2 separate regions of the Homo sapiens genome follow, and region 1 is linked to region 2. Evidence: fine-mapped expression QTL. A gene starts in region 2. The other region holds a variant in brackets. All regions are shown on one strand. Distances are from middle to middle.

Region 1 (9,303 bases), 59 kb before region 2:
GAATAAGTGGGGATGTGCTCGGTTAGAAAAATAATACTCAAAGCATTATCATTCACCAACTGATTTGTTTTCACAAGAAAAAATAAACAAAAATATTTGATTTTCTACTCAGACGACCATTTACTATCCCAAAATATGGTATAGCAATCTTAAAAGAGGCGAACTGAAAAGAATTTTTGTGTCAGGTGATATACCTCATTAACGCTTACATATTTGTGGTGTGGCTTTGTTTTCCTAGCTTTTATGTCTTAATGAATTATTTCTCATTCTTCCTCAAGGTAGTCATAAAATTTATTTCCCTGATGGTTCTAAGATTAATAACTCTCCACTTTAAAATCATAATGCTTTATAGTTCTAAATAAGAAATTGTGTTCAATATTAAATTTAAAAGTCTATTAAAGAAAATTAGGGTGGGCACAGTGGCTTATGCCTATCATCCCAGCACTTTGGGAGGCCAAGGTGGGAGGATTACTTGAGCCCAGGAGTTCAAGACCAGTCTGGGCAACATAATGGGACCACGTCTCTACAAAAAAATAAAAATAGAAAATTAGCTGGACATGGTGGTATGCGCCTATAATCCCAGCTGTTCAGGAGTCTGAGGCGGGAGGATAGTTTGAGCCCAGGAGGTCAAGGCTGCAGTGAGCCATGATCTACACTCCAGCCTGGGTGACAGAGTGAGACACTGTGGCGGGGGAAGAAAAAAAGAAAGAAAATTGGGCTTGCTAAGTTTCGTAAAGTCATGCCAGAAAGATGTATCTTACTCAAAGTCTTGTTCACACTGGTGATCGCCACAGATCAATTTTCCCACAAATATTTCATTGTATTTCCACTAGGCCAATCAATATATGGATAAATTTAGTTAAAGTATGGATATCAAAATATCTTCTTTTCATAATGATAAAACATAAACTTAAAGTACTGATTGGCAAGTCTAACCTAGGTCAGAGGCTATAAGCATTAATGTAGAGCTATGCTAAGCTTCTGTACTTCACAGTACATTTTCTCTAAGACAGCGCCTATTTTTTGTTTATAAATATTATTTAAGCTCAGTCTTGAAATATTTGTTACCAGCTTTTAGTTATTCAAGTTTTATTTAAACAACTAATGAACATTATTCAACCAGTACTATTTAAGCAAATTAATAACGTCCACCCCACAAATAAATACTCTACTTCCAAACCTGAGCTCATATCAACACAATTTCTGTCAAGAAGGTTTTGTTATTTCACAGCAGATTAGTTAAAAACTCCATTTATGTTCTGCAATTATCATATGTTATGTTATTATTAAATAACAACAGTTAACATTACTGATCCCTAACCTAGTGTGTCAGGCACCCAGTTAATGTTTTTCACACACTGATTTATTTAATCTTCATTTTAAAAAGCATTATGATACACATATTACTATTTCTCCCATTTTATCAGTGAAGGAACTAAGGCTTGGAGATGTTCAGTAACTTACCCGAAGCCATACAACTAGTAAAAGCTACAGAACTAAGACTGGAACCCAGGTCTGACTCCAAACCCATGCTTCTCGCCATTCTATTACTATACCTTGGCTGCGCATCCTATTTTCATACATCTTGGTAAAAAGTTTCTGGAAGAGGCACCAGCTATGTTTTAAACAGATCGCTGGGTCAAAGCAAAGCCCAGAAGAATTTGATGGGATGCCTGCTAGAATACGGGAAAGTGGATTTCACTGTGCCCAACTCCAGTTTTTTTTAGGGAAAGTCTAAATCTCTGTTGTTTCTGACCTCTTTATGTATACCAATTTACTCATTTGTCATTTTGCCCAGCACAGAAAGAATTCTCTTCCAGATGCTGCAATGAAGACAGAGCAGCATTCAATTCATCAGGGAATCCTCTAATACTCTCTGAAAATGTATGCATATCTGAACTGGGAGTAGAGTACTTGAGGATTAGAGAACAAGAAGCAGGTATTAAGGTCTACATCACACCATGAGTAGGAGACTGGGGAATAACATCTAATGATGTTGACTCAGCCATAGTTCAGATTCCAAACATCTAATGAATTTGCCCTATTCTTTATCAGAAGTTTGCTTTATATATGTAACCGCCATAAAAGTTCAATAATGATAAACATTACAATTTCTTTATTCTGAACATGCAGTCTAATCTAACTGTAACGGCAGGAATCACGCTCATGCTACAAACCTGGTCAATATTGAGGCGGAGCGGCATCAGCGACACTCTCAAGCAGCACTCCTGTGGGGACCTGCCAGATTCTGGACACACGTGTAAGGCTTTCACTGTCAACTACAAGGCAAGAAAGAGAATAACATTTTTCCCCAATAATATGATGACCTTCTTCTCTTTAAAAATAAGAAAAAAAAAGAAAAATTCCTATTCCTATACCATATGAGAAAAAGAGGAATTGTTTACCCTCTTTCCTTAAAAGTCTGAATCAAACATTTTTGGGTCACATGCCCCCATCAATAATCTGATTAAAGGCTGGGCACGGTGGCTCATGCCAGTAATCTCAACACTTTGGGAGGCTAAGGTGGGAGGATTACTTGAGTTCAGGAGTTCCAGACCAGCCTGTGCAATATAGGAAAACCCCAACTCCACAAAAAACAAAAAATTAGCCAGGCACGGTGGTGCACTGCCAGTAGTCCCAGCTACTCAGGAGGTTGAATGGGAGGCTAGTTTGAGCGCAGGAGGTCACGGCTGCAGTGAACTACAATCTGCACTCCAGCCTGGGTCACAGAGTGAGACACTGTTGGGGGGAAAAAAAAAACTGCTTAAAGATGTAGACTCTCTTTAGAGGAAAAATTGCAAATGGATAATGTTGTACTTAGTAACAGTTTACTGAAACCCTGAAGCTAACCATAGGTCCATATGCCAAAATCAAATTCTGTGAGGGACCTCCAAAGTCCTGAAAGAATCATTTCTACCTTACTAAAATGTAAAGAGTGTTAGAAATCTGGAACACCTTCAGCAATACTACCTATTTTGTACTGATCACTAGGGACTTCTACTTTTCCTCAGATATCAATTTATTAGCAATTAGAGTTAATGGACCCTAGAAGTGACATGCAAAATAATTTTTTAAACATAAAACTTTAAGCAATACATTCAAAAGGGACTTTTCACATTAAAATGAGAAAAGATATCTAGTAATTTTCCCTACTTTAACTCTCCTGAAGTTAGATATAATAAAAACACGTTTCCAAAACTAACATAACACAACGATGAGGTTAACTCTTACCATGTTGGAGTGAGCTTTTCGAGGCATTTCTTTACTGCAATACAGGTATAAAAATTTATTCATTTGTGATGTTGCCAAACGATCTCGAATCTCAAGATCCTGAACAATGAACACCTGCCGGGAGACTGGGTGTTCTGAGAGGCTGGAATCACAATCAGGTTTGCATGGCGGGTAGACTTCATGCTGAAACTTCACCTTAACGGGTAAGGAGGAAGAACGCGGAACAGTTCTTTACATTCCTTTTATTAAATTGTATTTTCTCTTTAAAATGCAAAATATCACTCATTTTTCCTCTGAATTCTACCTCAGCTTACAATTCCACCTTCAAAAAACTCAACAACATGACATTCCTTCACTTGTTCACTCATTTATTAATCTACAGTGCTCCCTGCTTGTCCAAGGTTTTGCTTTCCACAGTTTCAGTTACCCATGGTCAACTGAGGTCCAAAAATATTTCAGTATTTTGAAACCAAGAGAAATACCTTCCATATAACTTTTATTTTAGTATAGTGTTATAATTATTCTATTTTATTATTCATTATTGTTAATCTCTTACTATGCCTAACTTAGAAATTAAACTTTATCATAGGTATGTATGTATAGGAAAAACACAGTATACATAAAGTTCAGTACTATTTGCAGTTTCAGGCATCCACTGAGGCTATTACCATGTATGTCTGTGGATAAGGGGGACTATGTGGACCCTACCATACACAGAGAAGCTTGACTAATATTTCTATTTGACCTTGGTAAAATCCCTTATTTCCAAGGAAAATTCTCA[A/G]TAGGAATAAGACATAAAATTATTATCTTGCATACCTATGAAATTGCTTTAAAATGAATCAGCAGAGGCAGGGTTCAAGTTCCAAAAGGAGGCACAGATATGATTAAATACAGGGAATTGTCATCACTACAATATTGCCATGCTAACTATCCTAAAATATGACACTTGGTACAATCTCAGACAAGCTGGTAGAATTAAATGCGTGTGATGCCATCAGTAGTCTGGCCCTACTGGTCTCTAGTCTCACAAAGGACCTGCCAGATGCACTGTCCAAACACAGGCTTTCCCAGACAGATGCTCTAGGGCAGCATCTCCTCAGTCTGACCCTACCTCAGACTTCCTGAATCAGAAACTCTGGGGTGGAGCCCAGAAACCTGTGTTTTAATAAGCCCTCCAGGGGATTCTGGGCTTGCTCAACTGTGAGAACCACCGCTCTAGCGGTAGCCCAGACAAACAAAAATAAAAGAAAAACACCTCAGTCTTCTTAGAACATTTGAGAATGAAAAAGAGGTAAGAGTTTTATACAAGATCCTTGCACTTTTCCAATCCAAAGGGTTGGGACTTAAGGCTCAAGACTACGTGGTGGGGGATAACAAAAGAACCCCCCGCCAATATCCTACTTAAGTGGATTTTTCCTTCAAATGCCATCTTACCTTGCTTAGCTGTATTTCCATTAAAAAGTCATGGTTCCTTCCTTTTCCCCCACATACTGTATTACGTCCATGTCTCGTGGGTGTGTGAGAAGGCGAACTGTGGGGACTACTAAAAATGAGCAAAAAAAAAAAAAACCCTTTTGTTAAAGGAATATTCAAAGAAAGTCAATGAATGACATTAAGGAAAATGATAAGATGAAAGACAAAGTAAGAGTACAGAGCTATCAGAACGCTGCCACAAATTACTAGAAACCAAAACCGTATCTTCTTTACTCTGTAGACACTGAAACACGCGTTTCATTATTGCCATTAGAGTAATCACCTGCTTGCTAAATACTCAAAACTACAGGAAAAGCTAATTATGATGCTGGGATCCGTATCACAGGATACACTTAGAAATGAGACCTCCTTATAAGCTTCTTGTTACTTTGGAAACCCTTTATAGTCAGAACACAAGTCCTAGGAATCCCAACTAATACACAAAATAATTATAGTAAAGTTGGACGTGTTTTAAAGTCGCTTTTAAGTAGAAAAAGCTGCTGAACTATAGTGTCAAATGTTACTGCTCCACGCAGCCTCCATGCCATGCCCCACCTCAATAAGGAAGTCTGCCCCCTACAGGGATTCTGTCCACCTGATTCTCCCAGCGACCGGCACACTGCACTCGTCTCACAGGCGCTCAATGACCACAGGCTCTCTGCTCAGTGCCCTGCTGAATGCTGGGGACAGGGCATGCCCGACCCCACCTCCTGACACACTTCCTGCGTTTCACTGCCCTCTGTCACTCACATGACTCACAGGACCTACTCATTTTTGTGAAATAGGTACATGGTAGATACCTGAAAATTTCTGCTGAATGAAAATGATGAGAGTCAACATTTTAGTAAAAATACAAATAATACAAATAAGTTCACAATTGGAAAACTGTGAGAGTAACATTTAAATTACAGTTTTTAATACTACTTTATTAATAATTCTTAAAATGATAAATCCTATTTTTCTTTTTTCTCTCTAAAGGGGAAATGGAAAATTCTATTTTTCTAAGAAAAGAATATATTGGCCTCCCAAATAAACTTATATAGAAATTAACTTACATATAACTTTTAGCCGGAGAAGTGGGAGGGACTATTCCAAAATCCTTTCCTCCATAAAGATGCCAGACAAGAGAGACCTCCTTCACCACATAGCGAATCACAGGAATGGGAAAGTGTAAGGGGGCTTTGCTCGTATCGGTCTTATTAACGGGCAGACTGAAATAATTGTCTCTTATCACAATTGCATCATCAACCATGATTTTTATAACTGGTTCTTCTTCCTTCTCCTAAAATAAACAAACAGGTAACACATACTCTCTTTTCTAATTAGAAACAACTGATTATGCTGCACATCTCAAGGGGCATTCTTGCTTCTACATTCTTTTTAATAATTCCAGTATATAAAATAAGGTGATGGTTACCGACATTAGTCACCACAAAGATATTCTGCTTTATTAACCATAAAATAAACTCTCTTTGTTCTACGTAAACCACTCCATAAGGATTTTTTATGGTTTACAATTCGGCTTTCACTACTTGTTTGATAATAAAAAAGCACAAATTTAGTGTGTGGGTATTTTTTTTTGTTTAAAGTCAATACTGCAAACCAAAAGTTAACAAATTTCAACATATGGATGATATTACCATGTTTTTAATAATAGGTTTATCCTGAGTTTGATTGTTTGGATTTTTAAAAATTTAACCAGAAGGTTCTCAGAACTTTGTAAACAAATACGGTCACCTACTGGACAATTCCTGGAAAGTTTCCAAATACACATACACACACACACTTATATCTATACATACACACAAACACACCCCAACCATCAGCCTTCACACAAACCACATCTTATCTTTCCCGATTCTTGGACTAGCAATTCTGTCCAGCAGATCCTTCTGCCATTTAATTTCACGATCCTTGAATAGTCATCTTACTATATAAAAAATCTGGAGTTCAATAATCTATGTTGGAAATTTTGCAAATAGCATTCTTCTCTGAGTCTTTAGATGTGTCACAGAAATAGTACAGTAACCATTCACCAACTGTCAATAGTATATTAAAAAAAAAAAAGTAACTCTGAACTATAAAGAATTTACAAAATCAACAGAATTTTCTCCAGGTACCCTTTGGTCAATTCATTTGTAACACCATTCAAGGCTTCAATAATGTTATTAATTTATTACCTGCATGGCTGCTTTTGGTGCAAAAAGAATGCAAAAGTCATCATTCTCAGTGGGCACACCTGTCATTGCATCACTGATGAAATGGTGAGAGAATGAGGCATAGGTGGGGCCGGACTCCTGGGATACATTCCCACTCTCGTCAGGAAACAGGAAGAGGTCTGAACAACATGGCTCCTGAATTTGAGATTTTTCATCCAAAACACCTAGATAAAAAGATTACAACATTTTGGCACACTTTGAAATATCAACAACAACAAGCATTTTAACCATGTGTCAGATATATGTTGTGTGCTTTTACCTGCAATATCTCATTTATTTCCTAAAATAAGTCTATGAATCTGAGGCTTAAAGAGAGCTAAGTAACATGCACCAAAACACCTCAGCAAGAGTCAGAAATACATCAAAAACCACTAATAGGCCAGGCATGGTGGCTCATGCCTGTAATCCCAGCACTTTAGAAGGCCGAGATGGGTGGATCACCTGAGGTCAGGAGTTACAGACCAGCCTGGCCAACATGATGAAACCCTGTCTCTACTAAAAATACAAAAATCAGCTGGGCATGGTGGCACACACCTGAGTCCCAGCTACCTGGGAGGCCGAGGTAGGAGAATTGTTTGAAGCCGGGAGGTGGAGGTTGCAGTGAGCTGACATCACACCACTGCACTCCAGCCTGCGTGACAGACCAAGAACCTGTCAAAAAAACAAACAAACAAACAAAAAACAACAACTAATAAAAAGACAAATGATAAATTCGAAATGGCAATGTCACAAAGACAGTTTCCTCCCAGTTAGTTGGCGTTGGGGAAGCTCAGCAGTTGCTGGTTAGTGTTGAGTGGAGTTTTGCTTTACCCAGAATTTCACCTTTGACAATTCTGTCCTATAGGCGGAGCTCTGGAAGAAACTTCTTGGACAATATTACAATGTGAGGGGAAACTGGTTACATTTAGCAGAGCCTAAATGTAGGGGGAGGGAAGGGGAAGGGGAGGGAAGAATAGCTGTTGAGCAAGCATTAGGTGGCAGAGGAGGCAGTGATTCAAGTATGAAAAGAAGACCTCTTCCTGGGGCCTGGGATACCCAAACTGGATACCTAATCTTAGGTAGCTATCGCAAAAGATTACATGTGCACCAAAATCTGCATGTCAACATATATTTTAATATGTTTACATTACATATTAAGAGTCACTCATTCTTTTCCCATTCATTCATTAAAACCAAACACTGTGATGAGGCTGAGAACACTAAGCTGAATCAAGAGACATACTGGCTTTAAGAGACTCACAGATTAGATTTTAGATTCTTCTACAGCAGTACCTCAGAATTACTCATCCTTACAGGTACCCAGGGCCTAGTACAGAATCTTGTATATTGAAGCCACCCAGTAAATAATCACTAAATATTCTTTCCCATGTAATTAAGGTAGCTGCATATATACATATACACACACACACATATATAAATATATATAAATACATAAATATATATATACATATATATATAAATACATAAATATATATATACATATATATATATATATATATACACACATATATATATATATATATATATATATTTTTTTTTTTTTTTTTTTTGAGACAGAATCTCGCTCTATTACCCGGGCTGGAGTGCAGTGGCACAATCTTGGCTCACTGCAACCTCCGTCTCCTGGGCTCAGGTGATCCTCCCACCCCACCTAAGCCTCCCAAGTATCTGGGACTATAGGCGCCTGCCAACACATCCCACATCTAGCTTTTTTTTTTTTTTTTTTTAATTGGAGAGATGGGGTTTCACCATGTTGCCGAGGCTGGTCTCAAACTCCTGAGTTCAAGTGATCCACCTGCCTCAGCTTCCCAAAGTGCTAGATTACAGGCATGAGCCACTGTGCCCAGCCTAGCTGCTAACATTTATTACAAATAATGTAGTACATAGAACACTAAAAGCCCCAGTTTGCTTCCTTAGTTCTAATTTATCCTAAATTAGCAAGACAGCAACAGTTAACACTAGACTTTTACAACTCCATGAAATAATTTTTAATTAAGATTTCCCAATATATAGATATAGCTATGACCATTCAATTAGAAGAAAATACTGTTGAAATAGAGGCTTTAAAATGTTTACCTGCTTCCCTTTGGCTTTCAAGGATCTTGAATCACCTGGGTCCCTCTTTGCTTACCCAACTTTATTATCTAATTCTTTTCAATAAGAGAACTTTTGTTTCAGTAAGAACCCGAATGTCATGGCTAAATAACTGAGGCTCATGCATGCCTTTGTCTGTGCTCTGTTGATGTTAATGACCTTGCCAAGATTACCTTCTCCTCCCTCTTTACATACCTAAATCCCAACCACTTTTAAAAAGCCAAGCCATCTTACTTTACTAAAGTCTAATAAAATTATCCCAATCCTTTCCAAACAGTAGAGGATA
Region 2 (9,303 bases):
TATAAGCAGCAATCGAAACATTCTTAAACTGAAGTTAAAAGGCCTCAGTGGCCAGGCGTGGTGGCTCACGTCTGTAATCCCAGCACTTTGGGAGGCCGACATGGGCAGACTGCTTGAGTCCAGGAGTTCAAGACCAGCCTGGGCAACATGGCGAAATCCCGTCTCTACAAAAAATACAAAAAGTAGCCAGGTGTGGTGGCATGCACCTGTAGTCCCAGCTACTGCAGGGAGGGGAGGAGAGGTAGGAGGATCGCTTGAGCCTAGCAGGTTGAGGCTGCAGTAAGCCTAGATCACGCCACTGCACTCCAGTCTGGGTGACAGAGTGAGACCCTGTCTCAAAAAAAAAATAAAATAAAAGGCCTCAGTGTAATAAATTGTTAATGTGTATCTTCTTGAGCTCCTGTAAGAAAAGGGTCTTTGTTTAGTTCACTGCTATATCCCCCAGCCCCTCACAGTGGCACATGCTAAGAGCTCAATAAATGTACTGAATCGATTAATGAAAGAAATTCCATTTAAAAATCAAAAATAAAGGCACAGTCATAGAGTTAAAAAGGAATGAGTCATTAAATCCAACTTCCCACCCCAAATAGAATTTCCTCCTTTCAACATTTTGCCATTTCAACCACTTCTAGGGACAAGGAGTTTATGAAATTTTTAGACAGTCTATTCCAATGATGGAACAATCCCAAACCCCTTGCCTCTATTTCTCCCTCCACTTCATGCCACGTTTAAGGTAGTAATCTCCAAAACTGGATGCATATATCCTAAAGTATTATCAGATGATTCATAAGGATGTGAGAGGAAAATGAGACATTCTATATTAAATTTTCCAAATTTAGATTGAAAAGTTGTACTTATATTTAATATACAAATGGGCACTGGCACCTTCCTTCAAGCCACATATCAAACTGGTACAAAGAGAAAACTAGTAGTTCCACAACAGAGAAGGATTAAGAGTGGTGCCCTCAGTTGGATGTTCCTTCCACTTCTGCACACTGAAACATTTCCACATACATTCTATAGAATAAAACCAGACCTTTAAACAGTAGAATCTTTGTAAAGAGAAAGTGAATGGCAATTACCTTCTGGTTTCCTGGTTTCTCCTATGGCCAAGTGTTTAAGGGTTGGATTTAAAGATAAGCATTTTCCTTTTACACAGAGAAGAATTCTCCACTGACTATTTATGTATTTATGACAATGACTATCAGTAGTACATGCTACCTAGCAGATATTTTCCAAAAAACAAAACATACTTAATCTGTCTTTTCAAAATAAAGATAGCACTTTAATAATGAGTAAGAAAGCAACCACTTTTCAAAGACTACTTGTACTATGAGGAGAACATTTGAAAAACTGTATTTGGAAATGTTTCCATTGTTCCATGATTTTGTTGCTGAAAACAATGTCTATTAAAAACATTGCTTATTTTTTAAGTCATTATCTATATAGTTTACAAAATGTTTAAAAACATGAAAAGACTATTCCAACCAATCTAAGTCTTCTGAACAAAGAGCTTGAAAAACTGAATTTTAAACCTAATTGTGTGTATATATGCAATGTCAATTAGCCATAATAGAAAAACTAATTGAGATCAGGAATGAAAGGAATGTCATTGCTGAGTTCAACAAAATTCTTTGCATAATTGATCATTTAGAATTGAAACAGTAGGAGTACAGCAATTCTTCAATTAGCATCAGTTTTTCCATTAGGATCTGTGAATCTCCGAAGGTACCTTTTTTTCAGTCATGTAAGTCATTAAAATCAAGTATCTGGCTGGGTCCTATGGCTCATGCCTGTAATCTGAGCACTTGGGAGGCAGAAGTGGGAGGACCACTTGAAACCAGGAGTTCAAGACCAGCTTTGGCAACAAAGCAAGAGAATGAATCCTCTACCAAAAAAAAAAAAAAAAAAAAATCAAGTGTGAAAATAAACTGAATTTGGAATCAGAACTCTGAACAGCTGTATCTAAGGGTCACACTAAGATTTATCCTAACCATCAACACAGCACATGAAAATAAATCAGCAACAGCAAATGTTTACTGGATGCTTTGACATTATCATTTTAGTTTACAAAACCCGCCCATCAAGAACAAAACATCATCCTCAGATTAAGTTTAGTAATAAATCATTTTGCCAATGATTCTGAACTCAAACTATAAAATTCAAATATCACTACCTCTGATTTCCCATAAGGACTAAATAAAACCTCACAAATGAAAGTGCCTAGTACAATGCCTGACATAAATACATACTCAATAAACATTAACTGCCTTTCTTTTGATCTTAGGCCATGTGATGTAATACTTGCTAGATGTGTGATGGGGCAAACTGCTTAACTCCATCTGTAAAATGGAAATATTAATGCCCACCTTATAGGGTTAAAGTCATTAAAGGATAATGCATACAAAGCCCTTCCACCCACAAAAGGCATTAATAAATCCTGAACCCTCTTTTTTCAAGATAACCTATTCATAACTGTATCAAAAGTATAGAATCATGGGTTGTTGAATTCAAAAATATCCTTCAGAATCCCTATCTTTTGGAAGAATTACAGGAATACAATACCATAAGACGGACGACACAGAGATGAAGTGTGTGCTCCATTAGTGTTTACTGAACTCAGGTGAATTGCTAAGTCCATTATCACTCGGCTAATTGTGGCGGTCTGGAGAGTCTCTCCAGGGGTAGGACTCTCACCTCCTGGTGAGCGACTGGGTCTTACTGCTCTCAAACCAGGGCTCTTTCCACTATCTTGTGTCCTCTCCCTAGTTTATGTCAGGTACATACTGATAAAATTATATACTGATTTATAGTCTCTAGCACAAATTCGCTTAAGGGTCATAATAAGGTATTTCCATAATTTAAGATTTTCTGTGGCTAAGGAAGTAAGGGTTGGGCAAAGGGTAGAAGTCACTCTATTCCTGTCAAACCCAAAAGTGAATATACTTTAAGTAAAATGCTATGCATTGAACACACAAATGCAGGTACGACTGCATGTGGTGAGTCGAAATTCAGATGAAGCACCTGTATAGCAATGAGTGAATTCACAGCCTCTAGATGACAAGTAGAAGGCAGGTTTTAAAATGTCTGAAAATTGCAACTTCAGCGCTTTTGCAACACCTGCTTTTACGATCTGTCACGTGGAGCAAAGAGGCATAACTCAACAGCACTACTAGGGCCAGACGACCATTCACAGGCTGGATACACAAACCTATCTTGTAAACATATAATCAAGCAAAAGCAGGCAAACCGGCACAAGAGGCCTTCACCTAACTTTCTTCCAGATGGCAAACGCTGCACGATGACAAACAAGGCAAACATGGTGCGCAAGCAGCCAACCCAAAACAAATAACTAGGGATTCTGACATCCAAAGGTCCTCTTCATCCTTAATCCTTCCAGAATGTCATCCCACAAGGCAGGGTTTGTTTGCCACAAAACCCTGCGGCCCCTCACATCCCGAGGGACAGTTCTGGTCACCTCCTCCCACGGACCTATTGAGCCTGCTTCACAGACCCCCGAAGCACTGACTCAATTATTCCCACAGTGTAGATTCCATTACATCTGTTAAAGTTTCCGGAACACGTGATTTAGGAGAGCAAACTTGTTAGAAACAGATTAAACAACACTCTAACACATTTCTCTGAGCCGTGTCACACTCGGGTCCAAACAATTCCCAAGGAGGGACTGACTGTCACCAATCTTGGATGGCACTGGTTCAAAGCGCCCTAAAGAGGGGAGCGAGCCCCGCCCGGCTCGCCGCCGGCAGCTCTTACCCATTTGTCCAAGGGGACCTGGGCGAGGGACCCGGTGCCTTGGTACAGGTCCAGGCTGAGCTGCTCCAGGCTCAGCTTCTCCTGCAGAAAGTGGCCCAGGTACCTCTGCAGGAGGTACCGGCAGGCCCTCTTCTTGATGGACTCCGAAAACGGCCAAGGCATAGTGACTGCTGGCAGCTGGGCTGACTGCGGCTGCGGGTTGCGACGGCTCCGGCCTCGGGGTAGCGACTCCGGCTCCAGGCCGCGGCGGGGCCTAAGCCTGGGGCGGCCCCTCCATCCCTATTTGGTGCCGGGAGTCCCTCAGGGAGACCCCATCGCCGGCGCCGCACCGCTCGCGCTGGGCCTGGCGGAGGCAAGACGCAGAGGGGTCCTCCTGGCCCCAGGCCAGGGGACTTCCGAGGAGGGTCCCAACCGGCTCGGAGAGAGTGCAAGAGAGCGCGAGAGGAGGCGGCAGGGGCTGAGGCAGCCACCGCCACTGCCGCCGCGCGACGAATTTGTTGTCATCCGCGAGGCGCGTTCCCGGCTGTAGGGACGCTCCTGGCGCGTTCACGAGACCCAGACTCCCGGCGCGCCGCCGGGCGCTGGCGGAAGTGACGCCACACTGGGGCCGCGGAAGGCGGGCAGAAGGGCGGGGGCTGGAGCAGTTCCGGCTCCGAGGGGGCGGGGCGGAAGAAGGCGGGGAGGGAGGGGGCGGCACCGCCGGTCGGCTCCAGTCGCCTCCGGAGGAAGGAAGAAGAGGACGCCGGGCGCGCAGGTGAGCGGCAGCCGGGGTGGCTGCGGGCGAGGGGCGGCCCCCGAGAAGGGCTAGGGGCTCGGGGCGCCGGCGGGCCGTCAGGCCTTCCGGATGGGGACGCGACGCCATGCAGCTGGCTGGGCCGAGAGGGGCGGCAGGCTGCAGGGGCCCCGCGCCCGTGTTAAGAGGGGTCTGGGGGCCGGTCTGGCCGGCCTGGCTCTCCCGGCTCCCCTCAGACCTCGGCGCCCCGGAAACGCACACTTGGGGCTCCGCCGTCTCCGCTGGGAGGACTGGAGCCCTTCTCGAGCATCCCCGCCCGCACCCGAGCATTGACCGGTGCCCATTGTCAGCAAGTTCTTCGGCCCCCGCCTCATTCAGGTATTGTTTCTGAGGCAGCTTCTTCGTTGCCGTTTGCCTGGCGGTTTGCAGAGCGCTTCTCGCATACGCTCGCTTAATCCTGGGTGTGTCATAGCAACGATCAGGAAACTTGGGTTTTCGAAGCATCTGTGGGCAAAACTGCATTCCTTGAGAAATGCTAAAGGCTCCTGACCCCGCCGGAACCTGGGTGAAGAACTTGGGCTGTTCTGGCAGTCTGCGCAATCGTATTTCTGCCTTTTGGGAGGTAACTCCTGCAGAGGCGGAGCCGGCTGTTAAGTTAAGTCAACCTCGAAAGGCCTGGGTGCGGGTGTTCTATGGCCCAGAAGCCAGATGTCCTTCGTTAGAATCCCGGCACTGACACCTATTAGCCGCCCAGCCACTTTGAGCGGCCACTGCCCTCCCCGAGCCCACGTTGCCTCCTTTGCCGAGTGTGAGCGGATTAAAATCTTATGTGCATGGATTTGTTGGGAAGATTAAATGATATGAGTAGGGCACGAACCTGAACAGAGTCCTGAAACATACAGCTGTTTAATCACAGTGAATTAAGACGACCAGTTTAAGGAGTGAAATGTTTACTGTCTCGGCAACTTTCATGAATGCCTTGGAAATACAGCCCAAAATATTGGTAGATGGAGAAACATCTGGTTCCCCTTTCCACAACCACCTTTTCGTTTTAGAACCAGGGTACTTTGTATGCAGTTGCTTGGATTGTTGATTTCCCTCATTCTTTGTAGACTCATCTCAAGTATTCTCAGTAACTTAGATTCCCTTGCTCTTCATTCAGAAATATTTGTTAAGGTCCATTAAATGAAAGTCACCACAGTTGATCATGTGAACAGTGTCAAGAATCAGGCCGAACCTTCAAGGAGTTTATGTTCTAAAACGGAAGCATGGTGGTACCTGCTTGTGGAGGCTGAGGCGGAAGGATCGCTTGAGCCCAGGACTTTGAGGCTGCATAATTGCATTGACGCTATCCATAGAGTGCCTGCAATTTCAAATATCAGAAAGGATCGTACGAGCTATGATCATGCCACTGCACTCCAGCCTGAACCACAGAGCAAGACCCTTTCTCTCAATAAAGTGGAAGTTTGTTCATTTATTCAGTAAATATTTATTGATTGCCTTCTGTGTGCCAAGCACTGTTCTAGGTACTGGGATTACAGCAGTGAACAGATAAATCTCTTCCTTCCTGGAACTTACATTTTATTGAAGGGAGGAGACATACAATAAATGAGTGAATAATATGCTTTGTGGTGATAAGGGCTGTTGGAAAAACGAAAGCAATGTAAAGGGAGTGGAGATGGGGAAGAGAGAAGGGACTTGCCATTTTTATATGAGATGGTAAGAGAAATTCTCTTGTTTAATAAGATTACATTTTAGCAGAAACTTGGAGAAAGCTGGGAAGTGAGGCACATGTATACCTGGAAGAGTTGTTTTCCATGCAAGGGGAACAGCAAGTGCAACGCCCTGTCACGGGAGAATGCTTGATGAATTTAGGGAACATCAAGAGTGAGTGAAGGAAAAAGTAGAAGCTGGGCAGTTTGGGGGTGGGGGGTGGGGCGGGCGGGGCGCAGAGGAAGCACATCATGTAGGGCCTCGTAGGCCATTGATAAGAACTTTGGAGCCGGGCACAGTGGCTCACTCCTGTAATCCCAGAACTTTTGGGAGGCCGAGGTGGGCGGATCACTTGAGGTCAGGAGTTCAAGACTAGCATGGCCAACATGGTGAAACCCTGTCTTTACCAAAAATATATAAAAAATCAGTCAGGTGTGATGGCGTGCACCTGTAATCCCAGCTACTTGGGAGGCTGAGGCAGGAGAATTGCTTGAACCCGAGAGGCGGAGGTTGCAGTGAGCCGAGATTGTGCCACTGCACTCCAGCCTGGGCAACAGAGTGAGACTCTATCTTAAAAAAATAAAAAGAACTTTGGCCTTTACTCTGGGTGAGGTGGATTTAGGAGAGGAGTGACACAGTATGGCCTAAGTTTCTATGGGATCATGCTAACTGCTGTTAAGAATAGTCTGGTGTGGAAGTGGGAGGGCCAGAGTGAAAACAGCAGAACCAGTTAGAAGGATATCACCGTAATGCAAGGAAAAGATGACAGTGGTTTGGACCAAAGCGGTAGCGGTGAAAATGATTAGTTAGAAGCAGTTGGATTCTGGATATATTTTGAAGATAAGACATGTTTGTAAATAATAATTCTAATATTTGCCATAAAAGGAATACAAACAAGGTGGTATGAAAAGGCAAAGGTGGGATCTTGCAAGAAATTAGAATAGGCTTTGGAAGGTTTGAAATAGACTTCTGACAAATAGATACAATTTGGACTTCTTTCAGCAGTTATTAAATAAGTGGTTTCCTTTTTCAATATAGAATTGCATTCGGGCTATCCATAGAGTGCCTGCAATTTCAAATATCAGAAAGGAAAATTAAAACGACGGTTTTGCAATAACAAATATGCTCTATTCAGAGTATTGTGTGTTGCCTTGTAAACTTTATGCTTTCTAGGAGAAATTCAGTATAAATGTTAAGGTTTAGGACCTGTCATTATGATATCTTTGGCTACAGTAGGGTACAAACTCATCTCAAATCACAGTGCCATTTTTGTGTTTTGTCAAAGACAAAGTACCTGTCACAAAATGTTAACACCTTGCATTAATTAAGGAAGATGAAAATAATTACCCTGGCCAGGTGTGGTGACGTGCCCCTGTAATCCCAGCACTTTGGAAGGCCAAGGCCGGAAGGATCACCTGAGACCAGGAGTTTGAAACCAGCCTTGGTGCCAGAGCAAGACCCTATTTCAAAAAATAATAATAAATTTTAAAAAAGAAAATAATTACCCAACCGAATATTGTCAGCTTATTAAGAATTATGTAAAAGTTTGAAGTGACAGGTGAGAGGCTGTATGCCAGAGGCTAAATGGGTCATGTCAAAATAATCCTCCTTCAGAGAAATCTGTTAACATGGGAAATGAAAGAAAAGCCAAGGAGATGTATTTGACCTTTTTTAATGACTTGCACCTGAGGTAACAGGACGACGCTGTCAGGGCTCCACACCTCACGGCTCTTGGAGGAATTGTACAACACAGCAGCAGCCAATCCCCCACATAATGTAAAGAGCACCTAACTTGGAGCCACATGGCTTGAGCTTCAGGGTCAGGCTTTCTTCTTGAAAGATAGTGTTAAATACTTTTAATATAATAGATTATATTTTTTCAGCTGTTTGCCCAGCACAGTTCTAAGCACTTTCCATGTATTCATTCATTTAGTTCTCTCAATATCACTTAAAGGTAGATGCTATTTTAACATCATTTTAAAGAGGAGGAATGTGTGACTGAGAAAGATTAAAACATCTTTTTCCAAGTCCCAGAGTAAATTAAGTGGCCAAGCTAAAATTCTAGCCCCAGTCAGTCTGCTTGAGAGCCTGTTAACCATCACATCTTCCTGGCCCCTTGTTCATATTGAGAGGATTTACCAGGTTGTAGTGTGTGATACAAATAAAGGTAATCATGATTAAGATATCGTATCCTGCCCTCAGCTGACTGTTAACAATGTCAACTGAAAGGTCAGACTTTCAAAGTGAAAATTTGCACTCCATATGTTCTTGAAATCTTTCTGGGGCTGTTCTTTTGTCAGACTAAGTATATATGACTGTCTTTGCCCATTTTTTTGTCATCAAGGATAAAGCTCTTTGATGCTCTGAACTCGTAATGAAACAAAATAGTCTAATAAATTAGGAAGTAAAGAATAAACGATTTAGTAATCAATGTCATAATAACCAGTTGGATGAATCCTCCAAAAACACAAACACCCGAACACCGCCCAAAAATTATGGAGAAAGAGCTGGTTCCTAAATAATTTATGTATGATGTTTTAAGGAATCATTTATGGAAACTTTACATCAGGTGATACAACCTACCAGAATAAATAATAGCAATTGTCAAGTATTCCAATTTTTGTCTCTTTGCTAGAAACAGAATATTGCTCAGGATCTGGTAGAGAACCAATTTGGAGTTTAAATGGAAAGCAGTGAGGTTTTCTATTTTATGTCTCTGTAGATATTGATTTATGTTTGTTAGAATGTACTTTAAATATAGTGCCAAGTAATACTTATTTCCTAGAGGATTATATAGAAATAAGAAACTGTAATAACTGGAATTTTTTTTTTTTTTTACATTCCATTTTTGAGTGTCTTTTCCTAGAGTCTCATTTACAGTTTCTGGTTTCGAAGGAAAGGTTTACAAGGTTGTATTGCTACTCTTTTTTTTTTTTTTTTGAGACAGAGTCTCACTTTGTCACTCAGACTGGAGTGCAGTGGCACGATAGCTCATTGTAGCCTCAACCTCCCAGGTTCAACCGATCCTCCTACCTCAGCCCCTAAGTAGCTGGGACTACAGGCTTGTGCCACTAATTTTTGTA

The links. PIP is the estimated chance that this variant, and not a neighbour inherited with it, causes the effect. A credible set is the group of variants that fine-mapping cannot tell apart.
Region 1: its variant is the best candidate, but not a certain one, in a credible set for the expression of ATG2B in whole blood (INTERVAL, PIP 0.69).

Annotation. Positions count from the first base shown.
Region 1 is chr14:96,299,830-96,309,132 of GRCh38, forward strand. ATG2B (autophagy related 2B) reads right to left here. Exons shown (of 42, transcript NM_018036.7): 30 at 6,885-7,087; 31 at 5,760-5,986; 32 at 4,666-4,774; 33 at 3,232-3,426; 34 at 2,178-2,279. Among named protein-coding and RNA genes, the nearest start is that of BDKRB1-AS1, 36 kb to the left of the region's middle. The variant A/G (reference allele first, on the strand shown) is at 4,013.
Region 2 is chr14:96,359,041-96,368,343 of GRCh38, forward strand. ATG2B (autophagy related 2B) reads right to left here and starts at 4,301. Exons shown (of 42, transcript NM_018036.7): 1 at 3,775-4,301. The coding sequence starts at 3,936. It overlaps GSKIP (GSK3B interacting protein), which reads left to right and starts at 4,486. Exons shown (of 4, transcript NM_016472.5): 1 at 4,486-4,528. RefSeq lists enhancers at 2,861-2,930, 4,172-4,466, 4,387-5,207 and a silencer at 4,409-4,758.